2 separate regions of the Homo sapiens genome follow, and region 2 is linked to region 1. The links come from fine-mapping of genetic effects on plasma protein levels. Region 1 holds a variant in brackets. A gene starts in the other region. All regions are shown on their forward strands.

The links. PIP is the posterior inclusion probability: the model's chance that the variant is causal. The UK Biobank Pharma Proteomics Project read protein levels with antibody pairs (Olink). The fine-mapping took linkage between variants from a reference panel, not from the people measured, so its PIPs are less certain.
Region 2: EGFLAM starts here. The variant in region 1 is fine-mapped to the plasma level of the EGFLAM protein (UK Biobank, PIP above 0.99).

What each region holds. Positions count from the first base shown.
Region 1 is chr19:54,281,284-54,296,776 of GRCh38, forward strand. It overlaps MIR4752 (microRNA 4752), which reads left to right and starts at 826; the gene lies at 826-897. RefSeq lists an enhancer at 4,172-4,673. The variant G/A (reference allele first, on the strand shown) is at 455.
Region 2 is chr5:38,248,811-38,264,303 of GRCh38, forward strand. EGFLAM (EGF like, fibronectin type III and laminin G domains) reads left to right here and starts at 9,749. Exons shown (of 22, transcript NM_152403.4): 1 at 9,749-10,041. The coding sequence starts at 9,945. It overlaps LOC124900966 (a long non-coding RNA gene), which reads right to left and starts at 9,856. Exons shown (of 2, transcript XR_007058739.1): 1 at 9,784-9,856; 2 at 8,287-8,821. RefSeq lists an enhancer at 8,379-8,880.

The sequences.
Region 1 (15,493 bases):
CGTCCTTAGCCGTCCCTCTGCACCTCAATTCCTGGTCAACATTTTGGGAACAATGACTTATGTTTGAGCTTTGATTTGGGGAGTGGGGGAGGGAGTTGATATTTATTTGATGACTGGTTATCATCCGCTGCCTACGTGACCTTGGTTTGTAATGTCCCATCACTGAGCCTCAGTTTCTTCCTTTGCAGATTGTTGTCATGAATCCCACTCGTCACAGTGGTTGTGGGGTCAGTGGTGCCTGGGACATTGGGAGGGGCTCATTTGTGCTTGATTTCCAGACCAGGGTAAGACCTGAGGCTTTGGGACGTGAGAGGATCTTGCTGTTGGACTCCACATTCTGTAGGTGATTGATGAGTCCACTCAAGATGTCACATCTGACCGTAATGGAGAAACGTATGTGTAGCATTTCTGAAATACCCAGAGTATCAAGGTCATGAGCAGAAAAAGACATGTG[G/A]AAACCCCAAGTGTAGACGGACTCACAAGAAAGAACAGAGGCCAGAGGTGAGATGCCACAGGGTCCCGGGACCATCAAGGGCTCATTAGGGTGGAGGTTTCCACCACTGAGTGGAGCCGGGAGAGGAACCCCGGGATCTGCAATGACAGTGAGGGGCTCAGGGCTCCAGACCAAGGTGGGAGGCTGCGTCCTCTAGCTACACCTGAGGCTGGAGTGGACCCCAAGCAGCCCAGGGGAATTCCCTCAAGGGAGTGCACCAAACTGTCCAGACCTGCTGGAATTCCAAGGAAAGAAGCACTAAACACCAGGGTGTTCATAGAGCATTTATTAGGGGGACCTCTGCACAGTGGGGCATCCTTGTCTTCTTGCCCAGTGTCTCCTTGTGGATCTCAAGGATGTGCTTCCACATAGCAGCATGTTCTTCAGATGGACAAGGAGACACTGGGTATTCTATCCAAAGCTTTAACCTAAAATAAAAACAAAACCAAAAATAAACCCCTAGAAAATATGATCTCTCAGTACAGTTGTTTCTTGGGATACACAGGCAATTCGTTTCAGTACCCCCTACATGTACCAACACTTGCTCGTACTCCAGCCCTGACGTTGTCTCTGCTGGGTCTGCATATAGGAAAAGTCTGCCGTTCATATACGCAAGTCTTGTTTCTCACAAATGCTATAGTTTTGATCCCCGTTTGTTTGGAAAAAGTGTGCATATAAGAGACCCCTGGAATTCAAGGCTGCATTGCTCCAGGGTTGCCTGGATTTTGAGTTTATTTGGGAGTGAGAAGCAAGGATTACAATATGGAGTGCATGGCATGGCAAGCCACAGTGTGTCCAGAGAGGGAAGTGTGATGTTGTGATATATGCTGGTTTTCACCCGCAGTTCCTGGCTTGTAACTCCCATAGCCCTTGTTATAGTCTTTTGTTATAACATTGGCTGTGCTGGGCCTCAGGGGAGGCCTCTGACCTCCTCCTGCCCTTCCTTCACCTAACCCAAAGTAAGACTCGAATGTTCCCTGCCTTTCTGATAGTGGATCTTAAGACCCTCCCAGAAGACAGTCTCACCCTGTTCCTTGTGGGAGGAAATGCTGATGTCATGAAGCTTTCATAAAAGCCCCAGAGGACTGGGTTTCATGAGTTTCTGGGTGGCTGAGCATGCTAAGGCTCCTGGAGGGCGACGCCCAGGGAGGGTATGGAAGCCCCGGGCCTCTTCCCCCATGCCTCCTCCTATGAGTTTCTTCATCTGTGTCCTCTGCAGTGTGCTTTGTATTCAACCAGGAAATGTCAGTGTTTCCTGAGTTCTGTGAGCTGCTACAGCAAATTAATCAAACCCAAAGAGTGGGGCATGGGATCCCCAACTTGAAGCCAGTCAGTCAGAAGTTCTGGAGGTCTGGACTTGGGAATGGTGTTGGGGGCAGTTTTGGGGAATGGGCCTTCAATCTGTGGGATCCGGGACTGTCTCTGGGTAGACAGCACCAGAGCTGACTTAGAGGACACCCAGCTGCTGTTCGCTACTGCGTCTGGGGAAAAAAACCCCATACATCTGGTCCTAGAAGTCTTTTTCTGTGTTGATGATTCCTGTGACGTGAGAGTAGAGGAAAAGCACCGTAGAGAGAGCTCTCTGTACATAGAGAGGTAAAGGAAGTTCTTATCAGCAACAAGGGAGAGCCTGACAGAGCTGCCTGGAAACAGAGTTCCCTGGTTCCACAGGTTCAAAGCCAGAGTTGCTGTCAGTCCATTGGAGGAGATGCTGTTGCTGGTCAATGGTTCTCTTGAGAGCATCTTATCTGAATTCCTGACGTCCTAAAGAACATCTAGTGATAAACCTTGTCAAAGCAGAAGGGGCTGAAGGACATGGAAGAGTTTCTTATGGGTTTTTTAAAAGTCCTTAGAAACAGTTCTTATCTGAGACGTGGAAGCATGGGCCTCCTCTCCTTCAGGCCTTCCTGGCCCTGTGGGGTCTGAGTTTGACCAAAGTCATCTCATCCTTGCACCTGTAACTTTTCTATTGGGAGTCTGCAGTGAAGGGATGGGGTTACGAAGTTTAACCTGAGAGTTTCAGGAATTTGGTTCAGGGGAGGGCTTGTTTCTACACTTTTAGCAAAAGGGTTAATTTTTCAGTGTTTTCTAGAAACAACCTAAAGTGCTTTATCAGTACTTGGGGATGCTCAAGACCTCAGCTTGGGTTCCAGCCTGCAGGTGGAAACATGCATCTGTCCAACCCACAGAACAGTCATGGCCCTTTGTCTCACTCTCAGAACAAGGAAAAAAGTGGAGGAAACTGTGGGACCTTAGAGACTGTGACTCCCCCTCTTCTGTGTTTGTGGACAGACCCTGGGATGACTCAGTGACCCGGGCTACACTCAGCACTGAGCCACCTTCCCGGGTGTGCATGACACAGATGCGCTTTATCATTGTTGGACCGGGCATCTCTGACCCTGGAGTGTGAGGCTCACATGGACCCCGCCATGCCGGGCATAACACAGAGGTGATTCTAAGCTTGGGAGCATGGACACCGCAGGGCAGGAGCGGCTACAGCAATGCCCTCATCAGCTTTCCTTCCTGAGTCAGCCTGGGGAGAAACCCTATATGGAAGATCAGGTGTGTGGGAGAAAAACCCACCCCAGAGGAATAAAAATCAAAGAGTCCGTTAGAGAAAAAACAGGCAATTGTAGAAATGAATTAGGAAGCTATTGTGATGTGAAAATAGTAAATTATATTAACACATTTAGAAATAATTTCATCCAGAACAAGACACAGCTGAAATGATAAACATTGTATTGGTGTAGAATATTTACTAAAATTTTTCATTAGTCATCAGAGAAAAACTAGAAATGAAAAAAATAGAAAAGATAATTAATGCACACAAGAAATGGAATGAAAAGAGGAAACAGATATCTCTCTTTGGATCACACTTTCAGAATGAAGGAAATAAGGAGTATGTTATTCAGTAAATACTTGCAAAGAAAATGGTTGACATTTTTATAGAAATGAAGAAAGAACATGAGTTTAACGTGAACAAATTCATAAATAACATCAATGTCTTAACTATGATAGAGTAAAAGATACCTAGAATAGATACAAAGTAATTTTAAAACTACTGGAGAAAATGAAAATTATTGTCCAATGAAAGACAAGCACATTGGGACTGGATTTCCCAAGAGTAAAAAGTGCAAGAAAATGACTGGGGGCTGAGGTTCAAGTTGGCTGAATGGAAAGGGCTGGAGTCTGCCTACTCACTAAGAGGACCCAAAATAGCGAGTAAATACCAACAGGTCAAGTGGATCTTCCAAGAGGATGCTGGGGTTCACCTGAGAAACATGAGGACATGGAGAGAAGAGAAGAGAAAAGGTGGGAGCCAGGAGAGGCTCCTAACACGGGGAAGGGGTGAGTGAGTGAGAGATTCACCAACACGGGGAAGGGGTGAGTGAGTGAGAGATTCCCCAACACGGGGAAGGGGTGAGTGAGTGAGAGGATCCCTAACACGGGGAAGGTGTGAGTGAGTGAGAGGATCCCTAACACGGGGAAGGGGTGAATGAGTGAGAGCCTCCCTAACACAGGGAAGGGGTGAGTGAGTGAGGGGTCCCTGGCATCTACACCTCTGCTGTGGGCCCTTAGGATCCTGCCCACAGGAGAGCGCCTGTCCCCTCTGGGCCTCCAGAGGCCCACAGTTTGCTCCTGGAGACTGTACCAAGGCCCCACTGGAGCCCACGTGGAATCCCACAGGCTTCTGATCCCTGAGCAGCCTGGGTCCAGCTGCCACTGCCTTAGCAGGGAGGGAGGAGGCCAGGCACCTCTGTGGGCCCCAGAATAAGTATGACAGCTGGGGCACAGGAGCAGCCAAGCTGAGCACCACACAGCTGCCCACCTCTGTTGCTTCCTGCGAAATGGGGCTTCCTTCCTGCTAATGGGGCTTGCCAGCTGCAGGGCCCCAGTCACCCGTCCTGCCCCCACCCGAACACCGTGGCCCTGGCTCGGTGCCCTCTGAAAGCCCAATGCTCAGAGGCCCCTGACAAGCCCTTTGCAGTCACTGCCACCTCTGCCTCTGCCCCTGCTGCCCCAGGCCCAGGGAGGGTGTGGGGAGGCCTGGCACTTTCACGTGTCCCCAGAGCAAAACCGAGTGACACTTCTTCAGGAGGGAAGTGTGAGCGGGCCCTGTGCCTCACAGCTGCCAGTCTCCAGTGCCCCAGCCGAGGGGCGCTGCCCTCCCTAGTGACAGGCCCACAGCACAGCCACCCTGCCCCCACCTGGACATTTCAGCTGCAGCCCCCAGCCCTTCTGAGAGCCCAGTCCCCACAGGCCTGTGATCTGCCGCAGGCTCTACCACCTGAGCCTTCTGCCTGCCCCGCCTGAAGGTTCTGCCGGTGACCTGGGGACCAGCCCATCCCTCCCCATCACAGCCAGCATCTGAACCCCGGAGCAGCCGAAACCCAGTCCAGCCCCTTCAGGACTCACACACGCTGTCCAGCCGGCCACCTAGGGGCCTGTGATCCGGGAACTACCTGCCCTTTCCTACCTGCTGGCACCTGACCACTCACCCCAGGGCCTGAGGTCGGGCCCACCCAGCCAGCAACACCACCACAACTGACGTCCACTCTCCCATCCAGAGAGGCAGAAGCCCCACATCCCACCTACATGAAGCAGCTACCGCGTCAGACAACAGACAGCCGCTCAGGGTCTGCACTGGGCTGAGGGAGGAGGCTCTGCCTTGGAACCACGCCTGCAGAGAGTGGCAAGGCAGGTGTTTCCCACTGCCCTCAGCCACACTGTGGCCTGGGGAGAGACAAGAGTGTGTGTCTGAACTGAGACTCATGAGCCCTGGAGCACGGGTGTGATAGGGAGACAGACAACGTTCCTCCCTATGGGACTGGAAACGGTGTAGCTCCTTCACTCCCCGCAGAGACCTCAGGGCATTTCACTAGGAGCTGCTCCAGCCATGTCCATCAGGACTAGTGCCTGCACTCATCACTGGGATATCTGTGGGCAAGCCGGGGGTTCCAGCTCTGCCCAGGGGTGTTCCCTCGCCCCTGTGGAACAGGAAGCTCAGGGCACCTGACACTCCACGGTCCAGCCCTTCCCCTGAAACAAGAGTCAGCACCTCACAGGAAACACACCAGGTCCACATCCACCTGCTTGTGCCGAGCGTGGCTCTTACCCTTAAGCACCAGCTCCTGGCCTGCAATCTGAGCTGCACAGCCCAATGCAAACCCTGCTGCAGAAGCTCCCAAAGCCATGGGAAAAGCCAAAAGACCCTTCCCAACATGCTCTACAGTCACCCTCCCTGCGGGGCTGGGGGAAAATGTGCAAAAGAAATCCCATCCAAACGAAAATAAATTCGAAGAGAGTAAGTGGAGGCCTCTCCAGATGAGAAGGAATCAGTGTAAGGATTCTGACGCCGTGAAAAATCTGAATATTGTGGCACCACCAAAGGATCGCACTGGCTCGCTAGTGATGGATGCTGAAAACAATGGAAACTCTGAAAGGACAGATAAAGAATGAGACTGACACAAAAACATTACAAAGAATCAATGAAAGAAAACGTTGGTTTTTTGAAAGTATAAATAAAATTGAGAGATGGCTGACTACACTAACCAAAAAAAGGAGATTTAAATAAGCACAATCAGAAATGATAAAGTTGACATTACAACCAACACCACAGAGATACAAAAGATCATCAGAGACTACTATGAACACCTTTATGCACATAAACTAGAAAACCTGGAGAAAATAGATGAATTCCTAGACACACACAACTTCCCAAGATTGCACAGGCAAAAAATAGAAACTCTAAACAGACCGATAACAACCAATGAAAAAGGATCAGTACTAAAAATCTTCCAGCAAAAAAGTCCAGGAACAGATGGATTCGCAGTTGAACTTAGCTGTATGTACGAAGGAGGGCTGGTACCAATCATACTGAAAGTATTCCAAAAATCAAGGAAGTGGGATTCTTTGCCAGCTCATTTTACAAAATCAGTATCATCCTGATAGCAAAATCAGACAAGGATCCAACAGAAAAATAAAACTACAGGCCAAGAAATCTGAGGAACACAGATGCAAAAATCCTCAAGAAAATACTAGCAAACGGAATCTAACAGTGTATCAAAAACATAATTCATCATGATCAAGTTGGCTTGATTCCAGGGAAGAAAGGATGGTTCAATATATGCAAGTCAATAAAAGTGACTCATGACATGAACTAAGAACAAAAAGCATATGATCATCTCTATAGATGCAGATAAAGCTTTCAAGAAAGTCCAACATCGCTTCGTGATAAAATCCCTCAACAGGCTAGGCATGAAAGAAACATACCGCAAAATACCAACACCCCCTGCGTGACAAACCCACAGCCAACATCAAATTGAATGGGGAGAAGTGAAAACATTTTCCCAGGAAAATGAGAATGGGATCCTCCCTAGCCCCTGGGGTCTCCTACTGGACCAGGGCCTATCTGTGGGGCAGGGTCCCTCTCATGCTAGAATCTCCCTTTCCCCTCGTCAAATCTCAGTGAAGTGGACCATGGCCATGGGAGTGACAGTCATGGCACAGAGAGGCAGGGCTCTCCTGTAGCAGGACGAGCCGCAGACAAAACTCCTCAGACACCGGATTAAAGAAGGAAGAGGTTTTTATTCAGCTGGGAGCGTGGGCAGACTCGCGTCTTAAGAGCCGAACTCCCCGAAAAAGAAATTCTTGGCCTTTTTAAAGGCTTATAACTTTAAGGGGTCCACGTGAAAGGGTCGTGATACATCAAGCAAGCGTGGGAAACATGACTGTGGGGGGCTATATGCATCAGCTAACAGAACAAAAAGTTTTACAGTGCTTTTTTCATGCAGTGTCTGGAATTTACAGATAACACCAGTAGTTTAGGTCAGGGGTTGATGTTATTATTATTACTTTTTTTAACTCCTACGGCCGGGTGGTGGTGCCAAGGTTGTCTGGCTATTTATCTTACTTTTGTATTTTTCCAACTTTTGGCTTTTTCTCTCTTCCTGTTTTGTGAACTAGGCAAGGTGGGGGGAGGAGGGCAGCAGGAGTAGTAGTGGTCTCCTTCCTTACTCCCACTTACAGGATTTTCCCACCAGCATCTCCATGGGTGGTGAGCTGTCCCGGACCCCGCTGGCTCATGTTTTCCCAGGACTTGGCCTTTCTCGAATGCTTTATCTGCATCGCTTGAGATTATCACATGCTTTTTGTTCTTAGTTTATGTCGTGAGTCACCTTTATTGACTTGCATATATTGAACCATCCTTTGAGACAGGCACCAGGCTTTCTGCTGATATTTCAGACACGCATGGCATCTCTCCTGATCTCCTTTCACTGTCTGCCTGACATGTCCTCGTCTCATTGAGGGCCGGGACGTAGCTGCAAATGGACGTGGTGCCTTCCTGAGTTGGTCCCTTCCAGGTGAAGGCAACGGAGGGTTCTTCCTTCCTCTCAGAGACTCCTCGTGGGGTTTCCCTCTCTCCTTCAGCTCACCCATAAACACACCCTTGTGGGGAACCTACCATGGCCAGTCTTCTCACCAGTCCTGGGGAAGCTTCAGGGAAGATGCAAATTCAGGCTGCGGGGCAGACTCACATCAGCAGAGACTCATCTCGCATCTTGCTGTGCAGTTCCAGTTGAGCTTTATTGTGGCGATGAACAGAAAAGGGAAATACATGGAGACAAGGGAAGGAATCATGACTCTTTCCCCAGAACTGGAGTGTGGGTTTTCTTTATGCAAAAACGTTCCCTTCACGAACTTCTCATTCACTCATCGCAACAGCATCTGCCCCCGTCTCCCTGGAAACAACATTGACCTGACTCTGCCTTCTTGGTGCCCCTGTCTTCTTTCAAACACTCCTGTTCCCATCCTGTGCTCCTGAGTTCAAGGTTCTGGGACAATACGTGGGGTTAGCACTCTGCTTTGAGGGGAAATCTTGTCTTTATTTAAATATTCATGTGTCACCCCCTGCCTGTGTGACCTTGGGCAGTAACCTCCCATTTCTGAGCCTCGGTTTCCTCATTTGGAGCCTGTGATGAACCCCATTTATCACAGGGGAGCTGGGTCATTGGAGCCTGGGGACTGCAGGGGGCTCAGCCATGGGTAATTTCCAGAGCAGGTGAAGACAGGAGGGGTGGGGGCATGAAGGGATGCTGGCGCCCACCATCAAGGCCTGAGATTGATGTTTCCACTAAGGAGAGCCCCTTTGTTCCTGCCCTTGAGAGATGCTTCTCATAATATTTCATCAACACCCCCGTTATCACAGTCATGTCCAGAAAATGAGAAATGAAAGCTTGTCAGAAGGAGAAGCGCCTGCATTAAAGAGAAAATTAAAACTGACAGAGCATTTGTGTCTGGTGCCATTGGGGTCTTCAGGGAGGAAGTAATTAAGTCACTAGTGTGCATACATTTAAGCATGAAATGCAAATCTTTTTTTTTTTTTTTTCGAGACAGAGTCTCACTCTGTCGCCCAGGCTGGAGTGCAGTGGCACAATCTCAGCTCACCGCAACCTCCACCTCCCGCGTTCAAACGATTCTCCTGTCTCAGCCTCCCGAGTAGCTGGCACTACAAGCACGCACCACCACACCCGGCTAATTTTTGTATTTTTAGTAAAGATGGGGCTTCACCACGTTGGCCAGGCTGGTCTCAAACTCCTGCCCTCACCTGATCCGCCTGCCTCCGCCTCCCAAAGTGCTGGGATTACAGGGGTGGGCCACCGCGCCTGGCCAAAATGCAAATCTTGACCTCTCATGATAAACTGAAAAATAGGAGTAAATTAAAAAATACATATGCTAGACTGAATTATGTAATTTAAAATGCATTTTTGTGTTTTGTGATTTTCAACTCAACATGTCAATAGCATTGCTTCTCAGTGGGACTGGACTTCCCGATAGTAAAAAGATAAGGGAAGGAGATGCTAAGAGAGTACTCTCAGGGGACTAACTGCAAGTGAGGAATTCTATACTTACTCAGGTTAATACCTGAAAGGTAAAGGGGTCAGCAGGGGACCAATTCCTAAACAGAAGAAGGCTCAGGGCAAGACGGACCTGTGAAGCTGTCTGGTTGGGCTTCCCCTTCGTGAGGGCTGAGGAGGGATTGGAGGGTGGATCTCTCAAATCATCAGATGTGCTTTCTCTTCCAGGTGTTATACTTACCCTTTAACTAATACAGAAATGTTTTCATCTATTTTGATAGAGAGAGTGGGAGGAAAAAGAAGGCATTTTCTGAGCTGCAAGTTACTAGATATTACTGTTTTCATGCTCAGTGAAGGCAATTTTAAATGATATCATCCAGTTGGAAGATCAATGAATCCGGCCGGGCGCGGTGGCTCACGCCTGTAATCCCAGCACTTTGGGAGGCCGAGGAGGGCGGATCACGAGGTCAGGAGATCGAGACCATCCTGGCTAACACGGTGAAACCCCCGTCTCTACTAAAAATACAAAAAAATTAGCTGGGCGTGGTGGTGGGCGCCTATAGTCCCAGCTACTCGGGAGGCTGAGGCAGGAGAATGGTGTGAACCTGGGAGGCGGAGCTTGCAGTGAGCGCAGATTGTGCCACTGCACTCCAGCCTGGGCGACAGAGCAAGACTCCGTCTCAAAAAAAAAAAAAAAAAAGAATCAATGAATCCAAAATGTAGAATATGAGATGCCACAGTGATGTAAGTGAGAAACAGGCAAGTATTTGAAAATCACACACAGACATGCCCACATGAATGCAACCACACACGGGCACACATGTATGAGTCAGTGTGCATGTACACATGTGAGTACTCAGAGTTCAGCTACAGTGGAATTAGAACGTGTCTTCTCTAAAGGCAAGGATAAATGAATCCTCATTCGAAAATATATAATTGAGTGAATACTTAACTAAATAGGTGAAGTTATTCCAAATTTTTCTTTTTTTTTAATCCTGTATGTAAAAGAGTAATTCATCCACTGAAGGATAAGTTAAATAGCCCAGTACCCCAATCACACCTAGGCATGAAACACAATAGTACCATCTAAAATGAAATGATAATTTACAATCAGTAAGTGAAGAAAGGTATACTAGTAAAATATCTATTGGAAATATTAATATTCAACAAAATGTAACATAATCCAAAAAGTTTTAGAAATAAAAACTAAAATTTTGTGTTTTAATGAAGTTGTAAGGGCTGGGCATGAAGGGATTTGCAGGCTGAGCGGGGAGGATCACTTGAGCCCAGGAGTTCAAGACCAGCCAGGGCAAATAGTGAGACTCATCTTTATTTATTTTTTTAAAAAAAGAAGGTATTAAAGATGACTGGGAAAAATCACTGTATGAAAAACCGAGGAAGAAGGAATTAGGGCTCCCGAATGGGGTGAAGACCCACATGCAGAATGTCTCTGAGCCCTGAGAGTGGAGCAGTGTGTTCAGGATCCTGAGCCTGTGGAACCAACATTCTCTGAGATGTGAGTCTATGGAATGTGTGTTATAAGACCTGCCTTTTGTTAGTATAATCCAGCAAAAGCCCATGGGCGAGGACCCAGTTTTATTTTAGGGAATGTGGGGACAGTATATTTTCTATTTGTGTTTATGCAAATTTCATATTGCTGATCAGTCATGCAGAAGGCGGAGGTCAGTGTGTTCACAGGATTCGTACCCGAGAGTCTGGAGACACATGTGGGGGTCCATGGGAAAGGCTGGTGGCCGGGTATGGTGGGAAGGTAATCAGCGACAGATGCCAGAGTCTCCTGCTTGATCTTGCCGAAATCTGGCTCAAATGTTTGGCCTGGCACAACCAAACTAGAACTTGGAAGACGCTGTATAGGTAAAACATAATATTGTAATCATTCATATTCTGTTAAGGCTTTGAAAATGTCCTTAATAAGATTTCTTTATCCTGGAAGGTAGATGGCAAATGATAACATTTCTTTATTCTAGAGGGTAGATGGCAAACGATAAGATTTCTTTATTCTAGAGGTTAGATGGTGAATGATATGATTTCTTTATTCTAGAGGGTAGATGGTGAATGATAACATTTCTCTATTCTAGAGGGTAGATGGTGAATGATAAGATGTCTTTATTCTAGAGGGTAACTGGCGAACGATAAGATTTCTTTACTCTAGAGGGTAGACGGCAAATGATAAGATTTGTTTACTCTAGAGGGTAGATGGTGAATGATAAGATTTCTTTATTCTAGAGAGTAGATTGTGAATATTTGGTCCTTCATGTTTTCTCAGGATCCTCCCTCCAAACATTCTATCCTATACAGCAAAGCTTTACATCCTTCAAACACAACAGTCGTCTTGGACCTAGATATGTTGAACTCTTTAATGCTAGGACTCAAGTCCTCTTGCTGTTTGGGACAATTCAGAAAAGAATCAGCCCCAGTCATTTTGCATACTTCTGTCTGACTGTCATAGGTGAGTAGAAAGAAACAGCTCAACTGCTTGACAAGATTCATCGACCTGAGGTCTTGTCTGCAGCTGGATTTCTATCCTACTTCCGTGATTTTCCTTTCGTGGATCACCAACACACTGCAAATGCCTATCATTGCTTTTGACGTGGTGTACTTTGGTTCTGCCTGGAAAGGCAGGAAGTCTCGAAGTGAGGAGCTCACAGGTCAAAGGAGATTGAAATGTTTTCAGACAGAATAGGCAAATCCGTAGAGACAGAAAGCACACTTGTGGTTAGCAGGTGCTGGAGGGAAGAGGGAATGGGGAGTGGCTGCTGAATGGGTGTAGGATGATGACAATGTGTGGAACAGGATGGCAGTGATGGTTACACAGTGATCTGAGGAGAAGATACACAGGTAGCATCTGAGAAGGAGGGAAGGGCTTGTAGGGTTTGGAGAGGGTGTCAGGGCATCAGGGTGGATTTATCTTTTCCTGGTTGAAATCTGATACTCTCCCATTGATTTAGTTACTGAAGCACGTTTGGAACTCTGAACTGAAGAGATGGAGGCTCAATAAAGCACACCAGGGAGTATGGCAATGAGGAATAAAGAAGACTGTGTTACACACCATGGACCAGAGCACACAGATGTGCAGAGGTGTGGATCCAGCCCTGCCATGTGGGATGTAGCCTCATGTCTAGGGGTGGGAAAAGAAGGGGATCCAACCAAGGGAAGTCAACATTAATAGAGAGGAAAGGTATCACATGTTAATGGTCCTCCATGGATCACCCTGCAAAATATCTCTGCAATCCAACACTGATTCCTCCTTCTAGAAATTATCAGCAGACAGTCCAGATAGCATTGGCCCTAAATTGTCTCCCGGAACCTCCTGGGATCACCATATCTATTCCCAAGGTTTCACCACTCTGAGAGATGCATTGTCCTCTCTGCTGTTCACCTCCTAGCTGCATCTTAGGGGCTTCTCTGGCTGTGCTGAGCCTCAAATAACAGAATCCTGAGGACCACCAGGATCAAGCCAGCCTTGCCCATGTGGATGAGATTCTCCACTGTGTAATCCTGGGGGTGTGAGGTTGGGGATGGTGGGCAAAGAGACCACAGAGGTCAGGGCAGATCAACATCACCCAGGACCTCTGGATGTCCACCCAGGGCACCCACCTCCCCTTCACAGGACCTGACCCTCTGTGCCAGCCCCATAACTGAAAGCATCTCCTCACGCACCAGTCTTGGGGTCTGAATTGTTTTGTGATGGGCTGAGGGTATCAGCTGCTCCTGAGAATCAAAGCAAAGGAGAAGTACCCTGAGCCAGCCTCTCCCATGGGCTCGGCATTCTTATCTTCCCCTGTCTCCTGACATGAGTTCTAAGGAGTTCCTTAGTAAACTCTTCCTCTGTAGCAGTGTTCGTTCCGTTCTTCTTAATGAATTATTTCAGCTTTCCTGCTTTCTACAAATCCAAATGTTGCTCTTGAGTCATTTGGGGGAGAGTTTTCCTTCACCCTGAGGGCTCAGGATCTGCAAGGAAAGTGGTCCCCAGTACAGAGGTCACTGAGCCCTGTGTGCTGTCTGTGCAGCCTGGGACACGGGAGCACATGAGCCAATTCCCCCGGAGATGAGAGTTTCACGGATCCACCAGCTGAGGACCCAGGCTCCCTGGATGAGGGGTTGGTCCTCAGGGGCTCCCGAATGTCAGAAGCACAAAGCGGTGAAAGTCTGGGGCTGCCTCCCCTTCACCTGGGTTTTCATTGTCCAATTAATCTAATTAACTAATTCTTCATATAATCAGGAAAACCTAGAATGATGTGATACCTTCCCCCCGGCCCCCATCCAAAAATATCTGTCTGCTAAATAGTGGTGCTATTAGAGGTTCATAAATCAGTATTTCTGCTTTTACAAAGTGTGAATCTAGGTGAATCTAGACCAGTAACAAACATGTAAACTCCTACCACATCAAATGTCTTATTTATTTATTTATTATTTTTATTATTTATTTATTTATTTATTGAGGCAGAGTCTTGCTCTGTTGCTCAGGCTGGAGTGCAGTGGTGTGATCTCGGCTCACTGCAAGCTCCGTCTCCTGGGTTCAAGCAATTCTCCTGCCCCAGCATCCCGAGTAGCTGGGATTACAGGTGCACGCCGCCACGCCCAGCTACTTTTTTTGTATCTTTAGTAGAGATGGCGGTTTCACCATGTTGGCCAGGCTGGTGTCGAACTCCTGACCTCATGATCCTCCCACCTCGGCCTCCCAAAGTGCTGAGATTGTAGGCATGAGCCACTGTGCCCGGCCTATTTTTATTTTTATTGAGATGGAGTCTCACTCTGTCGCACAGGTTGGAGTGCAGTGGCACTATCTCGGTTCATTGCAACCTCTGCCGCCCGGGTTCAAGTGATTCTTGTGCTTCAGCCTCCCTAGTATCTGGGACTACAGGGCCGCACCACCATGCCTGGCTAATTTTTTTTTGTATTTTTAGTAGAGATGGGCTTTTACCATGTTGGCCAGGCTGGTATCAAACTCCTGACCTCAGGTGATCTGCCCGCCTTGGCCTCCCAAAGTGCTGGGATTACAGGCATGAGTCACTGCGCCTGGCCATCAAATATATTAAGAATATGGATATATTTATCAAGTGAACTTGGAAATACTTACACACATATTCAAATGTAACTTATATAACCACACATAAATATGTATAGATGTAAAACTTTAGATATTTAAGATGTAGTTACATACATATTGATATTTGAAGTGAGAAATATTGGCAAGCAATATAGAAATAAGTAAAATCTCCATTGTCTCATGGTTTGTATACATTTCATCAGGAAATTAGAGGAGATCCATAGAAAAGCAATTAGAATGGGGTAATTTGGTAGTGAGTTAGCATGAAATACAATGAATATACTCAAACGAGTAGCTTTCTCATGGATAATTATCTTTTATTTTTAAAATATGAAAGAATAAAGTACTTCACATATACATTGTTAAAGGTGTTGAATAATTCTTCAAGTTGGAATGAATATAATTCTTCAAATGTCCACCCAGGACACCCAGCTCCTCTTGACAGGACCTGACCCTCTGTGCCCAGCGTCATCACGGCAAGCATCTCCTCACTCACCAGCCTTGGAGTCGGACTTGTTTTGTGGTGGGCTGAGGGTCTCAGCTGCTCCTGAGAATCAAAACAGAGGAGAAGAGACATATTCAGAGGTAACTCATATGACAAATTATTCAACACCTTTGACAACTTATAAGTGAAGTATTTGATTCCTTTATATTTTTTAAACAAGAGGTAAGTACCCATGAGAAAGCTACTGGTTTGGGTATATTCATTGTATTTCATATTAACTTATTACCAAATTGCCCTCTTCTGATTTAAATTTAAATTAACAATTTTAAAGCATCTCTTTTTCCTATAAAAGAGGTTTAGTTAGATGTCAGAATTATCCAGTGATTGGACAACATTGGACATGAACCCCCCAGGCCCAGAGCTGGGCTGCACTGTAGCCCCCGCTGACCTCCCCCGGGTTTCCCATGCCACAGGGAGCCGCCCAGTCAGTTTCCCTCGGGCCACTGTGCTTTAAAACATCCAAACACAGCCGGGCGCGGTGGCTCACGCCTATAATCTCAGCACTTTGGGAGGCTGAGGCGGGCACATCACAAGGTCAGGAGATCGAGACCATCATGGTTAACACA
Region 2 (15,493 bases), not on the chromosome of region 1:
ATCAGCCTCCTCAAGCATTTGGGGATCAGAGTTTTTAGGGATAATTTGGTGGGTGGAGGGCCAGTGAGTCGGGAGAGCTGCTAATCTTTTTCTTGACTTCAGGGACAGTTCCTTGTCCTCATTTCCCTCCATATAGTCCTATACTGCTTGGGAAAGCCCAGGTGTGCACAAGCATACTAGCATGGGTGCACACATACATGTACATACACAGGGGTACACATACATATACCAATACTTTCATTTGCATTAGAAATGAAAGTCATTATTTTTCCACTGTCTGCTTTTTACCCTGAAGAAAGTAGATAGCTTGAATTGTGTTGTTGTTGTTTTTTTTTCAATGAAACCCCATGATTATGAAAGAGCGTAGGACCAGAGAATGATTAAAGCCATACTTCTCTTCATCAAACAAATACTTACAGGCTTGCCTACTACATACAGGCCAACATTTCCACAGTCTGAGTTTTCTTCATGGGTTCATCTGGACTCAGCGATCATGTTAGTGTATTCCTTCAACTCTGACATCAGAGTTTTAATGTTAATAGCATTTCTCAAGGATAAGTAGTTGGGACCTGGGCACAACTGAGAAGGATGTGTCTGGAGCTGCCATGCCCAAACACAGACACAAGGATGTCTGGGCTGAGAAGGATCCTGTGCTCTACCAGTTAAGCCCAGGAAACTCATGTCAGATAGGCAATGTGACTCATCTAAAGACATATAACAAGTAATAAACAAAGATTAGAAACAGGGAACATGAAAAACAGGCATACTGGATAAATTAAGAGGCACTAAAGCTAAAGGAAAATACGAATGGGCTAGCTGTTCCCAGGAGCAGCCAGGACTTAATGGTGACTCCTACCAGTTGTGGGTGTATCCTGTGTGCATTTTCCTTTCCTTAGATGGCTCGGCTGTGATTCCTATCCCAGAGAATCCCCTTCTGGTAGTTCATTATCTTTTGGGGGAGATCATTCATTGTTCCAAAATACAATCCTTGATTTTCCATTATTTCCAGTTCCTGTACAAAGTGTCTGGATCAAAGCTTCATCTTTGGCCTTAAGTCTCATGTGCCATCCAAGTAATAATCTACTAGTGCTTCTGGAGTTTAACTCTGGAGAGGACTTAGCTTGTCTCTGTGATAGATGTGACTGATGGAATGATAAAGCCAAACCACATTCAGTGACGCTCAAGGGTGTGGCATGAGCAGTCCCTTGGATTATCCTATCTGATGGGCACACCCTTTAAAGTAGATGTTACGTTTCATTGCAGGGGGGAGGAAATCAAAGCTGTTTCCTCCTTCTTAACTGTTGATCTTTGTTCATATTGTCAATTAATTTTAAAATAGGAATCTAAGCCATTCCCTCCTACTTTTTTGGATAAGGAATTTCCTTTGAAATTATTCTGTTCTTATTTCCTGGCACGAGCACTGCCATCCTGACATGCCACCCACCTTCTCCTCTGGCTTGAACCCTTCTCTCTCACACCCTTCCTTCCCTGGGACTGGGTACCAACCTAACCATAGCTAGCTAACCATAACATAGCTAACCCTAACTCAGCTACTTGTCACCTTCTTGACACCTTCTACTTGGCGACACTCACTGATCAGACTGTACTTACAAATCCTTCCATCCCCTTTGTCCTACTTCCCTCTTTAAGAAAAACGCATGGACATACATACGGGAACAGACACTGGGAACTAATAGAAGGGGCGGGGAGGCAGGAGGGTGTGGGCTGAAAAACTACCTATTGGGTACTATGTTCAGTACTGGGGTAATCATCCATACCTCAGCCGTACCTCAAACCTTAGCATCACACAAAGTACCCATTTAACAAACCGGCACACGTACCCCCGAATCTAAAATAAAAGCTGAATTTCTTTTTAAAGAAAAACACATAAAAATATCAAACTCAGACTGAAAAACTGGCCTTTTGCTTCTTTTTACAGGTTTTTTCTTGGCATCAGAAAATCTGCATTTGTTTGTACCATTGCAGAAGAAGCCAGAAACGAAGCCAGCATTTCTCTGCTTCCTACGCTCACCTCCCCACAGGAGTCTTCCCTTCCCTCCCTTCTCATGCCTGCCATTTCCGCTCTCTGGATGGACTAAATAGGGCTGGCTTGGAAACCGTGAGTCAGCTTCCTACAACCATCTCAGAGGCAAGGCATTGCTTTTGTCCTGCCATCTTTGTGTGTGTGTGTGTGTTGTGTGTTGTGTGTGTGTTGTGTGTGTGTGTTGTGTGTGTGTATTAAATGCTGCATTTTATTTTGTTTTGTTTTCATTTTCCTTTTTTGGCTAGAGACTTGCTTTCCAACCTCAAAGTTTTTCCTGATAAAAAAATTTATAAGACTCTTTTGTGTTTAACAAGTGACATCTGCCTGTCCTGGGAAAAGGAAAGCAGCTCTGTCATGAGAGTGGAGATCGTGAGCCCTGGGACAGACTGAGGCGGCATTTTATCTGACATCTTCAATTCCCAGAGGAGAAGAATAAGGGATAGAGTGGTTGATGGAATTGCTAAAGTCCCACGGACAATAGTGACAGAGATGGAACGAGAGTGCAGATCTCCTGACCTCTACTCTGTGGAGATCTCCTTGCTGCCATGTCATTTCACAAACTAGCCCTGAGTTTGAAATTGTGTGTGAGTCTCCAAAGAGATGCCTGTTAGTATGGTACGCAGTTGCATTTGGCCACTTTGGGGCTCTCTCGTTTTGTTGTGTCCTGTGTGGTTCATGGTTAGGTGGAGGTCACAGGACCCTGGAGGATCCCTGACATCTTCAAGACATGCACACGACAGGGGGTCTCCCTGTATTTTCAGGAAGACGATGGCTTCTCCATATTCCTGAAAATACAGGGAGAGACCCTGGCGTGTGCATGTCTATTTTTCTTGCTCATCCAATCTGGCAGCTCTAGACAGAACCATATAACTTGTGAGGTCTGCTTTTCATGCCCACCTCCCCCTTGGGAGTGCCAGTTTCCAGCTCTTCATCCTCTCTTTCTCCTAAGGTGTTCAGGATCTATATCTTGTCTCTTGGTTTCTCAGATTCCATCTTTCTTCCTGTCCCACCAAGCACTCCACCTAGACTGCCCTATATTCTTTTAAAATTAATTCATATTTTCTTTTGAACCCAAATAGACTTTCCTATGATTAAAAACATAAGCAGTGAAAAATAACACAATGCTAATTTTCCCCCATTCACCTCAGACACTCCAGCGCTCTTCCCACACTCATTAACACATTTGCACTGCCTAAATTTGCTGGATTCACTTTTCTCCTTGTAGCACATGAAGCTCTAAGCCCTTTTTTTTTTTTTATTTTTGAGATAGAGTTTTGCTCTATTGACTAGGCTGGAGTGCATTGGCATGATTTTGGCTTGCTGCAACCTCTGTCTCCCAGATTCAGGTGATTCTCCTGCCTCAGGCTCCCAAATAGCTGGGACTACAGGCACCTGCCACCATGCCCGACTAATTTTTATATTTTTAGTAGCGATGGAGTTTCAACATGTTGGCCAGGCTGGTCTCGAATTCCTGACCTCAAGTGATCTGCCCGCTGGGCCTCCCAAAGTGCTGGGATTACAGGCGTAAGTCACCCACTGCATCCAGCCAAAGCCCACTTTTTTTTTTAAACAGATGTAGAGTGATTTATTGCATTCCACAATTTATTTTACCAGTCTCTTCTCCAATGATGGCTACCTTTATTGCTTTCAGGGGTTTGCTATTACTAACAATCTATATCCTAGATTCTGAAAATTTTTCCTTCCCAAATTACTATTAAACTCATGTATTATTCTACTTGCTGTAGACCCTGGAGCTGCTGTCCTAAGTGACAGCTAAATGAGCTAATAAATGAGTCCCCACTGTGTTAACAGGCACAGTATTCATGAGCCCTTCCTTCCCCTTCAGGAAACATATGTCTATTTTAAGAGGGACCACCTGGATAAAAGTTCTTAAAACATTTCTCCCCCATGATTTTTGGAATAGAAGGGCTATAAGTCATAAATGAGTCATAGTTTTAACCCATGGGAGTATTTCAAACGACAGAAATTTCATGAAGATATTTGTAAAATACTTCATTAAGTGTGATATTTGGGGGCAGATTGGCTTTGTTGTAAACACATAGAGCTTCATCCAAAACACATAATGCAGGGTGGCAATCTAGAGGGCTTATCCCAGGTGAGATGTGTAGTCCTAGCTTTAGCCCTGAGCCTCAGCTTGGCTGACGCTGGCAGAGAAGATACAGCACAGAAGCCACATCCTGCAAACCACATCTCCTCCCTGTGGAGATGCAGCTGCCCATATCAAAATCAGGAGGGAGCATCAAGTTAAAAAGGCTGTGAGCACTACCTCGCATCATACATAAAAATCTATTGCAGATCTAAATGTAGAAGGTAAGCAATAAAGCTTTTCAAAGAAAAAATGGAATAATGTCTTTGTGACCTGGGGCAAGTTGCTAGCCATAAATGAAAAAAATCGATCAATCATACTACATTAAAACTAGGGTTTCTGTTCATTAAAAGTCGTCAGGAGAGTTAAAAGCCAAGACAGAGTGAAGAAAATATTACCAATATATTCAACTACAACAGAAAAACTCCTCTAAATTGTATCCTGAATATATGAAGAATTTCCACAAATCAATGAGAAATAAGTAGAAAACCCAATAGAAAAATGGGCAAAAGACATGAATAGGCACTTCACAAAATAGGATATACAACAACCAATAAAGAAGTGAAAAGGTGCTTGACTTGTTTTCAAGGAAACACAAGTTAAAACCACAATGTGGTATTATTAACATGCAACAAAATGGCTAAAATGAAAAGGACAAACAACATCAAGTGTTGGTATGATTTTTGAATGACTAGAACTCTCATATACTTTGATGGGAGTGTATATGAATATAGCCACTTTGGAAAACTGTTTGACAATACCTTCCAAACCTAAACATATGCCTATCATATAACCTCATAATTCTGCTCACAGGTATACACAGCAGATACACATACATATGTCTGCCACAGACACATACAAGAATGATCACAGCAACATCTTCGGTTGTAGTTCCAAACTAGAAACAACCCAAATGTCTATCAGGAGTAAAATGGATAAACAAATTATGATACATTTCTATAATGGAATACTACACAGCAATGAACATGAATAACCACACAACTTGGATGAATTTTTTCAAACATAATGTTGAGTAAAAGAGGAATAAGTGATTACATTACTGCATGATTCCATCTATATAAAGTTCAAAACCAGGCCAAAATAATCTAGGTGCTAGAAATCAGGAAAATGGTTACCTATTTGGTTGTAGGGTAGGTTACAGTTAGTGGGAAGAATGAAAGGCTTTTGGGGTGCTGGTATTGTTTTATTTCTTGATCTGGGGGTTTATTACACGTTTGCTTTGTCAGTGCAGTCCATTGATTACATACTTAATTATAATCAAGTATAAGCAAGGAGGACATAATGCATAGCAGATGGCTATGCATTATACAGTATCTTATTATATATGTTATCATTTGTAATACAGGGTCTTTGTCACTCAACCCAATAGCACATTATTTGCACTCTTATTTAGGGCTTCCTTTGTTCTGCTTTATGGAACAATTGACAGTGCAACTGTCTTCGTCTCCCAACAAATTTGTAGTCTTCTTGAGTGCAAAAAATATTGTTGCATTTTCTCTAATATATTATTTCTGTTCTTAGCACAGAGACTTACACATAATGGGATTCAGTCTCAATGTTTGTTTTACATTGGTGTAGGGAGAGTGTTTACTTATTTTTACTGATCTACTTTTATTTGTGTGTTTTAATTAAAGGTAAATGGGAGGTTAGAATTCTCATCCCTCATCCTTCTTCAAAAATACACACTTCTAGAGAGGAAGCATGAAGAGGGCTTTGTGGGGGTGCTGGTCATATCCTATTCCTTGATCTGGGCAGTAGTTAATAAAGTTATACAAGTGTGCTCACTTTGCTATAATTCATCAATTGGTACACTTACTATTTGATACTTTTGTATGTTGCATCTTGATTAAAATGTAACATATAAATATATGTATATTTATATTTCTAGTTTGATAAGACACTACGTTGGTGAGAGTTCACGGAATTAGTTAGGCACATATACTGCTTATTGGGGAGTAAAATAGTACAACCTCCTTGGGAGGAAATGTAGCCAAATTATCAAAATTGAAAAGGCATTTACTGTTTGACCGAGCATGGTTAGTCTAGAAATGAACCCTACAGTCTACTATAACATGTGCAACTTATTACATATTCAGTGTCATTCATGCCTGCTGTTTATAATAATTGGAAACAACAGAAGAAAGAACAAATAAATTACATATCACATGTAGAATATTATTCAGCAGTTAGTAAGAAGGAGGCAGATCTGTATCTGCTGATTTGGAAGGATCATCAGGTTAAGAAGTACGTAGAAGATGCTCTTGGTTGCGTTAAATATATGTGTATATAATTAGCTTGTCCATTCATAGACCATCTCTAGAAGGATATCCAAGAAACTGGTGATGGTAGAAGGAAGAAAAGGAAACTTATTTTTCACTATACACTCTGCCTGATCTGCATTTCAAATTTTACATGTAGATATAACCAATTTAGAAAAATAAATCAAAAGATGATTCTTGGCTGCTGCCTCTTTGTCACTCTCATTTAGAGTCTTAATAAACATTCTATAATTGATAAGTTTGCCTTTACTTTCTTCTACCAGCCTCCAAATCTATTCCATGCAGCAAAGGTCAGATTCCTCTTCCATGATAATGAGCAAAGTAGGCAGGTCACTCTTCTGCTGGTGACCTTATTAATTGAGTTTAGACCTCCAGTGAATTTGAACAGATTTTTTTTTTTTTAATGAAACATTCAAAGCCTCTTGGCCCCTCTTTAGTTCCCCTCCTCTCAGAAAGCAGGAAGAGAGTGAAAGGCAAGTGTTCTATTTGTCTTTAGTCAGATTTACAAATGCCATAGTTGGTTTTCAAACTGGAAGGAGAGGGAATCTTCCAGTTCCCTTGGAGGATGCGATTTGAACTGCAAAGGAAGGGAATAAGTTTAATGTAACATGTGCTCTAGATTTGAAGCAGATTTTGTGAAATAAGGTCTTATCTCAATGGCCTGATGATCCAGAGTGTTTGCAGGCCCTCAGAGGTAAAAATACAACAGTATAATCTAATGTTGTTTTTCCCCAAGGAAAAAACAAGAGGGGTCTCTGAAGAAACCAAGCCTATTTCCCAAATCGCCTATGGTCATCTGCAAAAAAATGGAAGGGAGGCCCAGGGCCAGGGATGCCGAGGTGGTGTGGGCACATGAGGAGGACATTGGCAAGAAGGCTGCCCAGGCTTGCGAAATTTGCAGTGGACAATTTGCACAGGGTCTGTTAAAAGGCACATGCAGAGTAAAGGTAGCTTAGATTAGATGATGCTGTTTTATCAGCTATTAAAGAGAAAGCAAAACCTGGAATTTACTGATTGTTTCGTCCAGCCCATTCATTTTTACCAAGGCACACTATACGCAGAGCCTAGGATTAAACACCCACATCTCCCGATCCTCTCAGTCCACTGCTGTGTTTACTTTCCACATTGTTCTCTCAAAAGCCTGAAAGCTGGAATCAGACCCCTTGGATTCAAGCGCTGCATGGGAGCTGCATGACCTTGGGCAAGTTTCTTAACCTTCCCATGCTTCAGGTTCCTCACCTGTAAAAGGCGAGAATAGTAATGACAGTATCTTCCTGGTATGGTTGTTATTGGGATTAAAATGCACTTCAAAGAAGGTCTGGTACATAGGAGACCTTAAATAAATGGTAGCCATAATATCAACGATTATTATTACTTCCAGTTTCAGCATCACAGAGAATCATTTTTAAGTAGGAAAGCCTGCATGGGAGGCATCTGCATTGCAACACTCGCTTGGTTCTGGGTGCCACATTAAGTCCGAGATAAGAAATCACTTTCGCATAAAGAAAGGCCTCTAACAACTTCTCAGCTGGCGCTGGAGGAGCTCTCTCACACAGGTGGAGTTCAAAGGGAGGTGGCACGACCCGACACCAATGCTGAAAGCAGACTCCTGCGTGGAGTGGAGGCATGGCCTAGATGACCTTTAAAATGCTAAAAAGTCTATGATTTTGAGACCTTTGAGACTAGCAGCCTTGGGGGCAGTCACTTTGCTTAGCTTAGTGGCCGGCTTTATGGTCACCTTGGACGTGAAGAGCATAGTTCTGTCTGAACTTTGCTCCAGTTCTATGTAAGAGGACAAGCTCTGGTGTCACAGCTAAAACTTCCAAATACTCAAGTTGGAGGGGACTTTGAATTTATTTGTGAACAGACAATTGCACACTTGAAAATGCCAACACATAAGGGAACACACTCAGCTTTGCTAACTAACAAGATTGAGCTCATTACAAACTCTCCAGCCAGGGGATATTTCATTCTTAAAAGAGGAGTAGAAATCCTGTGTGTGTGTGTTTGGGGGGCTGGGGAGGGGAGAAGAATATATCAGTCAACATTGTTTCCTCCCGCGCTCCCAAACATAGGCTAACTGTGAAGAGCCAGGACGCCCACCGAGTCCTGGCAGCGTTGCAAGGTGGGGAGGGGGCGGGCGCGGTCCTGTCGCTAGTGACTGCAGATTTCCTCTGCGGGGCACTTCCTACGGCCTTTGATCTTTCCCCAGGAACTGCCGAGGGCCGCGTTTGCCTCTAAGTTTATTCCCTCTTGGTTTATTTATTGTATCTGCTTTCTCTTCTCGCTGGTTTGGAGGTCAGAACGCCAGTATGCAACGGGACTTGTGTCCCAGGCAGGGTCTCCCCTCTCCAGGCACTACCGCGAAATCTGGCAAAAGGTACATTTTACTGAGTCCTAGGGCAGCAAATTCAGCGGCGGAGAAAGAGTCTTTCTCCATTCAGGAGACAACCCAGGAAGCCCGATCCCGGGATCAGAGGCCAGGACCCCGCCCCGGCCCCCTGCCCCAGGCCCAGCTGGGCGCCGCCCAGGGGCTTTTCTCGGTCCGCCTGGGGGCTCGAGCTCGCGTCCCTCCCTAAGACGCCAGGCTTAACTTGGAGTTTCATCTCCTCCCCAGGAGGGTCTCAAGTTGCCTTCCTCTGCCGGGAAGGGCCCCCACTCCCCCGCTCCAGGCCCTAATCTCCACCCGGCGTCCCAGTCTGAGCGGCCTGGCCTCAGCTCTCCATCTGCGAGCCTTAAATCCCATTTATCTTCTTAGCGCCTCAGACCCGGACGGTCCCGCCTCTCTTCCTCTCACCCCCACCCCACTTGCAAATCACAGACCCCCGTCTACCCCTCGCATCCCCCAAGTGCGCTGGACCAACTACAGCAACCTTTGAGGTGTTAGAAAAAGTCGCCTAGAGGGGCGCGGCAGGAGGAGGGCCCAGGTGGGGTGGAGGGGGGGCGCCCCAAGATTTCAGGGTGAGGACCGCGGAGGGTCCTGGACCCGCAGTCGCCTAACTCCTGCCCTGCGTCTCCAGTGCTTGAAGTCGGTCCCTCCCAGGTCCCCAATCTAGGTCACCAGCGGGGAAGGGCTGCGCTGGGGGTCGCTAGAGAGGGTGAGGGGCGGGCTGTCTGCTTCCGAGGTGGGCGAGGAGTGAAGGTTTCAGGGCCTGTCCCTCTCACTTCCACTCGATTGTAATTTCATCCCCGGGCCGGTCGAGCCTCCCTCCCTCCCGCGGCCAGCCCTTCCCTCCCAGTCGGCCTCCTTCGTCGCCCCCGCCCCCGCGAAAAGCCCTGCAGCTTGCAGCCGGCTTCACTCGCGCACGCCGACCTCCCGGCTGCAGTCCTACCTCTTGGAACTACCCGTGTTTCCGGGCCCAGCCCTCGCAGCCCCCCACCTCCTCGCCCCGGCCCGGGGATCCGTTGGGGCCGCGTCCCCCACGCGCCCCCGGAGACGCCCTTTCCGTGTGCGCCCGGGACTTGGTGAAACTTTGCAGGCGCCGGCTGCGAAATGGATTTAATCCGAGGCGTCTTGCTCCGGCTCCTGCTCCTGGCTTCCAGCCTCGGACCCGGCGCGGTGTCGCTCCGAGCGGCCATCCGAAAACCAGGTAATGCGCTCCTCCGCCCAGAGCCACCACGCCCCGAGCGCCCCTGCTGGGCTCCGGGGCGAGGACACAGAGCGGGCAGCGCACCGCCTCCCTCTCCCCGACCAACGTCTGCTTAACTCGCTTCAGCTCTGCCAGGAGCTGAGAAAAGACGCAAACCTCGCCCTCCCCCGAGCCCGGGCGGCGCTAGGGATATTTATTTATTAAAAGAATGATCAATTTTCCAGACATAGTAGATAGAGGTGGTGGTCCCCGTGTTTGACCGCAGAGAGCTGACAGTTGGGACAGCGATCGTGCTGTCTCAATTACAGAGGATGGCAACCATGCAGAGGAGTCAAACCAGCCCCTCCTGCGTCTCCAAACATTTTACTCAATTCATATTGTCCAGAGCCCAGCCATTTCCTGTTAAGTGTCTGAAGGGTTGCCTGGAGCCCCCTCTGCCCATCTCGGGTCCTGCCCACGCGTTGTGCAGGGATGTGGACTCTGCTCTTAGCATCCTCTTCCACTCTGGGGCCATTTGTTCAGAAGGAAGCACCCAGTGGGTTAATTTTACCGTGTTTTGAACTCCTGTCTTTGCTTTGGCATTTAAACAAAGAAATGTACGTTGTAACCTGTTATAAGGGACTGGGAATTGGGGGAGAACTTGAAACCATAATAACGTGTGTTTCCTCTAGCTGCATATAGGTAAAAAGTCTTCGTTTATTTTGGTCTACTTTGATTTGGCCTATGCTGTGAGATTATTCAAAGTAGAACATTCTGAACAATGAAGTTCTAAACATTGTTTCCCAAATAACGATTTTTATTACTTTTTGCTGGGACCATATTTAGAATTCTGAAAAATCTGTTTTGTCTTAACTTACTTTGTAAGGGAGGTTGTCTTATGGGATTAATTATATCTTATGAACAATGGAAAACAATATTACTTTTATTTGAATGCAGTCTGCAAAACCTCACAGAAAGTGCAGTTTGTCTTCACAAACGTTTCTGTAAGAAAGAGGCAAAGCTAGGAAAATTTATCAGAGGGCAGAGAAAATCGTCTTAGCGGGATCCCATGTGAATGCTTAAATATTTTCGCATTGAAACTCTCTATCTGGAAATATGACTTGTTGCATTTCGGCTCTGGAAGCGTCCTCAGTCTTTGCACTGTGTCTCTTATTACCAGCACTTGTTACCTGCCTTGAAATCTAAGGTCATTATCATAATCTACACCATATTTAAATTATGAGCCACTCCATTTATGAGCTCTTCAATTCATTTTGGAGATAATAGCTTCAGTCCAAGGTAATATCACATTAAATTGTTTCTCTTCCTGCACGCACACATACATATACCTTCAAGGATTTCAGTGAAGGGCTTCTTTCTAACTTTCCTCCTTAAGATAACCACATCACGATCAATTGCATTTTGCAGATTTATTCACATGAAATCATCTATTAATTGTCACAATTTTTAAACAAAGCATAGTTATATCTATAGTTTTAAAGCATGAACAGTGTATGCAATGCTTTTTAAAGGATATATTTTAATCCATTTAAGGGGAATTTTTAAAAAGCATTTTATAAAAACCTGTTGTATAAAACTGCTCATGTGGGTCATCATATTTTCCTTCTTATTTTTTGGAGTTCTTCTCCTAAAAAGATTTTCTACCTGGTTCATTCAGGGTCTCATTCTGATATTCATGCCAGGAATATGCCATGCTGGCCTCTTTGGTTTTATTTGAAGCATAGATAGGGTTTTGATAGTGGAAACACCACCTCTTAAATACTTTGGCATATTAATTACATCAAATTTGAGATAGAAGTGTTTAGACTAGGTTCAACCTAGAAGAGTTTTATTTTTATTACTTTATAATTTTATCCAGACACTAGCTTTCAGGTTGGAAAGCTTCTCAGATTAAAATGACAGCTACTTCATAACTTCAGGGGAAATTTCCCTCCTGGGCTCATTTACATCCCTTGGAAAGACTAGTTTTTGATCCGGAAAATTGGTCCAGATTAAAAAACTGAATGTGCCCTGCTTGGCTCTGATGTGAGCAGCAACTAGCTAATTTATAATCTTCCCCAGACACTAGCAAATCCTGCTAGTATCCATATGGGAGTTTCTTTGTACCTTGTTTCCTCAACAGAAATTGGTACATAGACAGTACTTTGAAGGTATCGTGGCCACGGTGCAGGCATACTGGAGCGGTTCTGTCTTATTTGGATGACCCTCCCTATCTCCTCATACTCCTAAATCTACTTTTGATAAGTATAGCATTGTTGGAGAAGTCTTGGATTCAAAATCAACCTGGAAATTCCCCATCCGCACCTACCTCTGGTGAGAAAAAACTGAGTAGCAGCTTCAAGTCTGAGTCTAGTTTGGGTTCAACACAAGCAACCTTTCTCTTCACCCCAAGATAGCTCATCTTTTGACATTGAACATTAATAAAGAAACCTCTGCATTTGCCAAGACTTACAAGAAATGACAGTTTTCAAATTAAGTGAAATTAAATCATAATAACTAACACTAAGTGCTTGCTACACTGTTCTAAGAACTGGATGCACAGTGATTTATTTAATCAACCCAATAGCCCTGGGAGATGGGGACTATTATTATCACTGTTTTACTGAAGGAGAAATTGTGGCTTAGAGAGGTTAAATATCTCATCCAAGGTCACACAACTAGTAAGCGGTGGAATGGAAATTTAAACTCTGATATTCAGGACCAGAAACTGAGCTCAGAACACTGTGTTTGCAGAGGTGTGTAGCATGTCTTGTAGGGTGTCTTCCTGGAGGCTGAAGAGTGGAGCTCCCGTGGGTCAGATATTGGAGCCTAGGTGGAGGCTGCTGTTTTGTGTGGGGATCCTGCGTTGCTCTTAAACATTTGTAAATGGGATCTGCCCATGCCTGCTAAGACAACAGAGTGCATATGATACTGAAAGAATTTTGGAAGCTACTGTCTACTGGCCTCATTTATAAGAATCACAGGGTGTGGCCTTATGGGGTGATGATGAACCACTTGCTTCTCTTGTTGAACTCCTGGGGATTAAGGCTGGTGAGGGTCAGAGGGCCCACTACAGTACCTGAGGGTAGAAAAAGGGGCCTCTGAAGAATGGGAGGGTTTAGGGCCCTGTCCTTTCCCCAGACCTTCACGGTGTGGACACACCACTCATTGGATAGCCTTCATTCCTTTTCAGACTACAAATTAGAATCATAGGCCTGGAAAGAAGTGAAAAGTCCTCATTTTGCAATGAGGTTGAGGGTGACTCAGTAACTTGCCCCAGTTAACATCAGAAGCTGAACTGGAACTGGCACCTGGACCTCCCACCCTCCTGAGTGGTCTCTAGCCTAGTGCTGGTCCCATCACCTGAGTCTCACCAGAAAGTGCGGGAGGACTGCCGTGCTTCTGTGGTGGGGCAGGAAGAAGGGAGGGGAAATCCAGACAACTGCGGGAACCAGCATGCAACAAGTCACTTAATTCCCGCAGGCATATTGCTAACTCTTGTCCTTATTATCATTTTAAAGTCAGATTTATTGAGGTATAATTTATATGCAATAAATTTCATCAAGTCTACAGTTTGATGAGCCCTAACAAACATACACAGTAATGTAATCACCGCCGGAATAGAAATATATAGAACATTTCCATCATCCTTAAATATTACCTTGTGTCCCTTTGTAGAAAAATGACTCCCTCCCAGCCCCTGGTAATCACTGATCTAACTTCTATCCCTGTAGTTTTGCCTCTTCCAGAATGTCATATTTTGTGTCCACCCTCTGTCGCATAATGCTTTTAAGATCCATCCATGTTTTTGCATATATTGGAAGTTTGTTCCTTTCTTATTGTTGAGTAGTGGTGCGTTGGATGGACCATGGAATTCCAGTTTGTTTAACCATTTGCTAGTTGGTGGACTTTTAAGTTGTTTTCAGTTTTAGGCTATTATGAATAAAGTTCCTAGACACGTGCACGTAGAAGTCTTTGGAAGATATATGTTTCCATTTCTCTTGATAAACAGAAGGAGTGGGATCACTGCATCACATGGCAGGTATATGTTGAGCTGGATAAGAAATCACCAAACTGTTTTCCAAAGTGGCTGTACCATCTTACATTCATACAATGTACGAATGTTCTAGCTGCTCCTAATCCTCTACAACACTTGGTAGAGTTTTTTTTTGGTTTTGTTTTAGTGATTCTATTCTAATAAGCATGTAATAGTATGTCATCACAGTTTTAGTTTGCATTTCTCTAATGACTAATTATATTGAACATTTAAAAAATTTATTTATTTGCCATCTTTTCTTTGGTGAAATCTTTGTTTAAATGTTTGGCTGATTTTTAAAACTTGGGATGTTTGCCGGGCATGGTGGCCCATGCCTGTAATCCCAGCACTTTGGAAGGCCAAGGTGGGCAGATCACTTGAAGCCAGGCGTTTGAGACCAGCCTGGCCAACATGGCAAAACCCCAGCTCTACAAAAAATACAAAAATTAGCCGGGCTTGGTGGCGCGTGCCTGTAGTCTCAGCTACTTGGGAGGCTGAGGCACGAGAATCACTTTACCCTCAGAGAGGGAGGTTACCATGAGCCAAGATCGCACCACTGCACTCCACCCTGGGTGACAGAGGAAGACTCTGTCTCAAAAAAAAGAAACAAAAAACATTGGGATGTTTATTTTCTTATGATTGAATTTTGAGTGTTTTTTGTATGTTCTGGATGCAAGTCCTTTATGAGATCTGTGTTTTGTAAATCTCGGCTTCTAGTATGTGGCTTGTCTTTTTATTTTCTTAATGGTGTCTTTCAAAATGTAGAAGATTTACATTTTGATAAAGTCTAATTTATCATTTTCTTAAATGGCTCGTGCTGTTTTTTTGAAAGCTTAACCCGTGGCTGCAAAGATGTTTCCCTATGTTTTATTGCAGAAGTTTTTTAGGTTTTACATTTAGGTCTATAATTCATTTTGAGTTAATTTTGTATGAGGTGTGAGATATAAGTCAAGGTTTATTTGCTTTTGTATGGATATCTTGGCTTTATTTTCTAAGCACTCTTATGCTTGGTGGTGGGAGGTGGTACATCAGAGGCAAAGGGATCTCCAGCTTGGAAGGCTTGCTGTAGCTCTCAAGCTACAGTGGCTGTGCCATTAAGACCTCCTCATTCCTATGCAGTAGATAGGGTATAGATCGTTTGTCTCTCTACAAGGTTCTGTCAGTGAAGTCAGACTTAGGGCTGACAGCCGTGGCATGTCTGGGAAGGATTCCTGGGGTTAAAGACCGGTGCTCCCAGGCTTAGAGCCTGGGGTTGCTCTTTGTTTATTTAGACAAGTCTCCTGACATTTATTAACTCTCTGGCACTAGGGGGGCTGGAGAACTGCACATGGGTCCTGCCTTTCCTCCTGCCTGTCCAGTTTGCCTGAGGTCCCAGGGTCAGTCGAAGAAGGTCAAGTCAGCGTTCAGAGTTCAAGGTTTTCCCTGGAGTATCTGGGT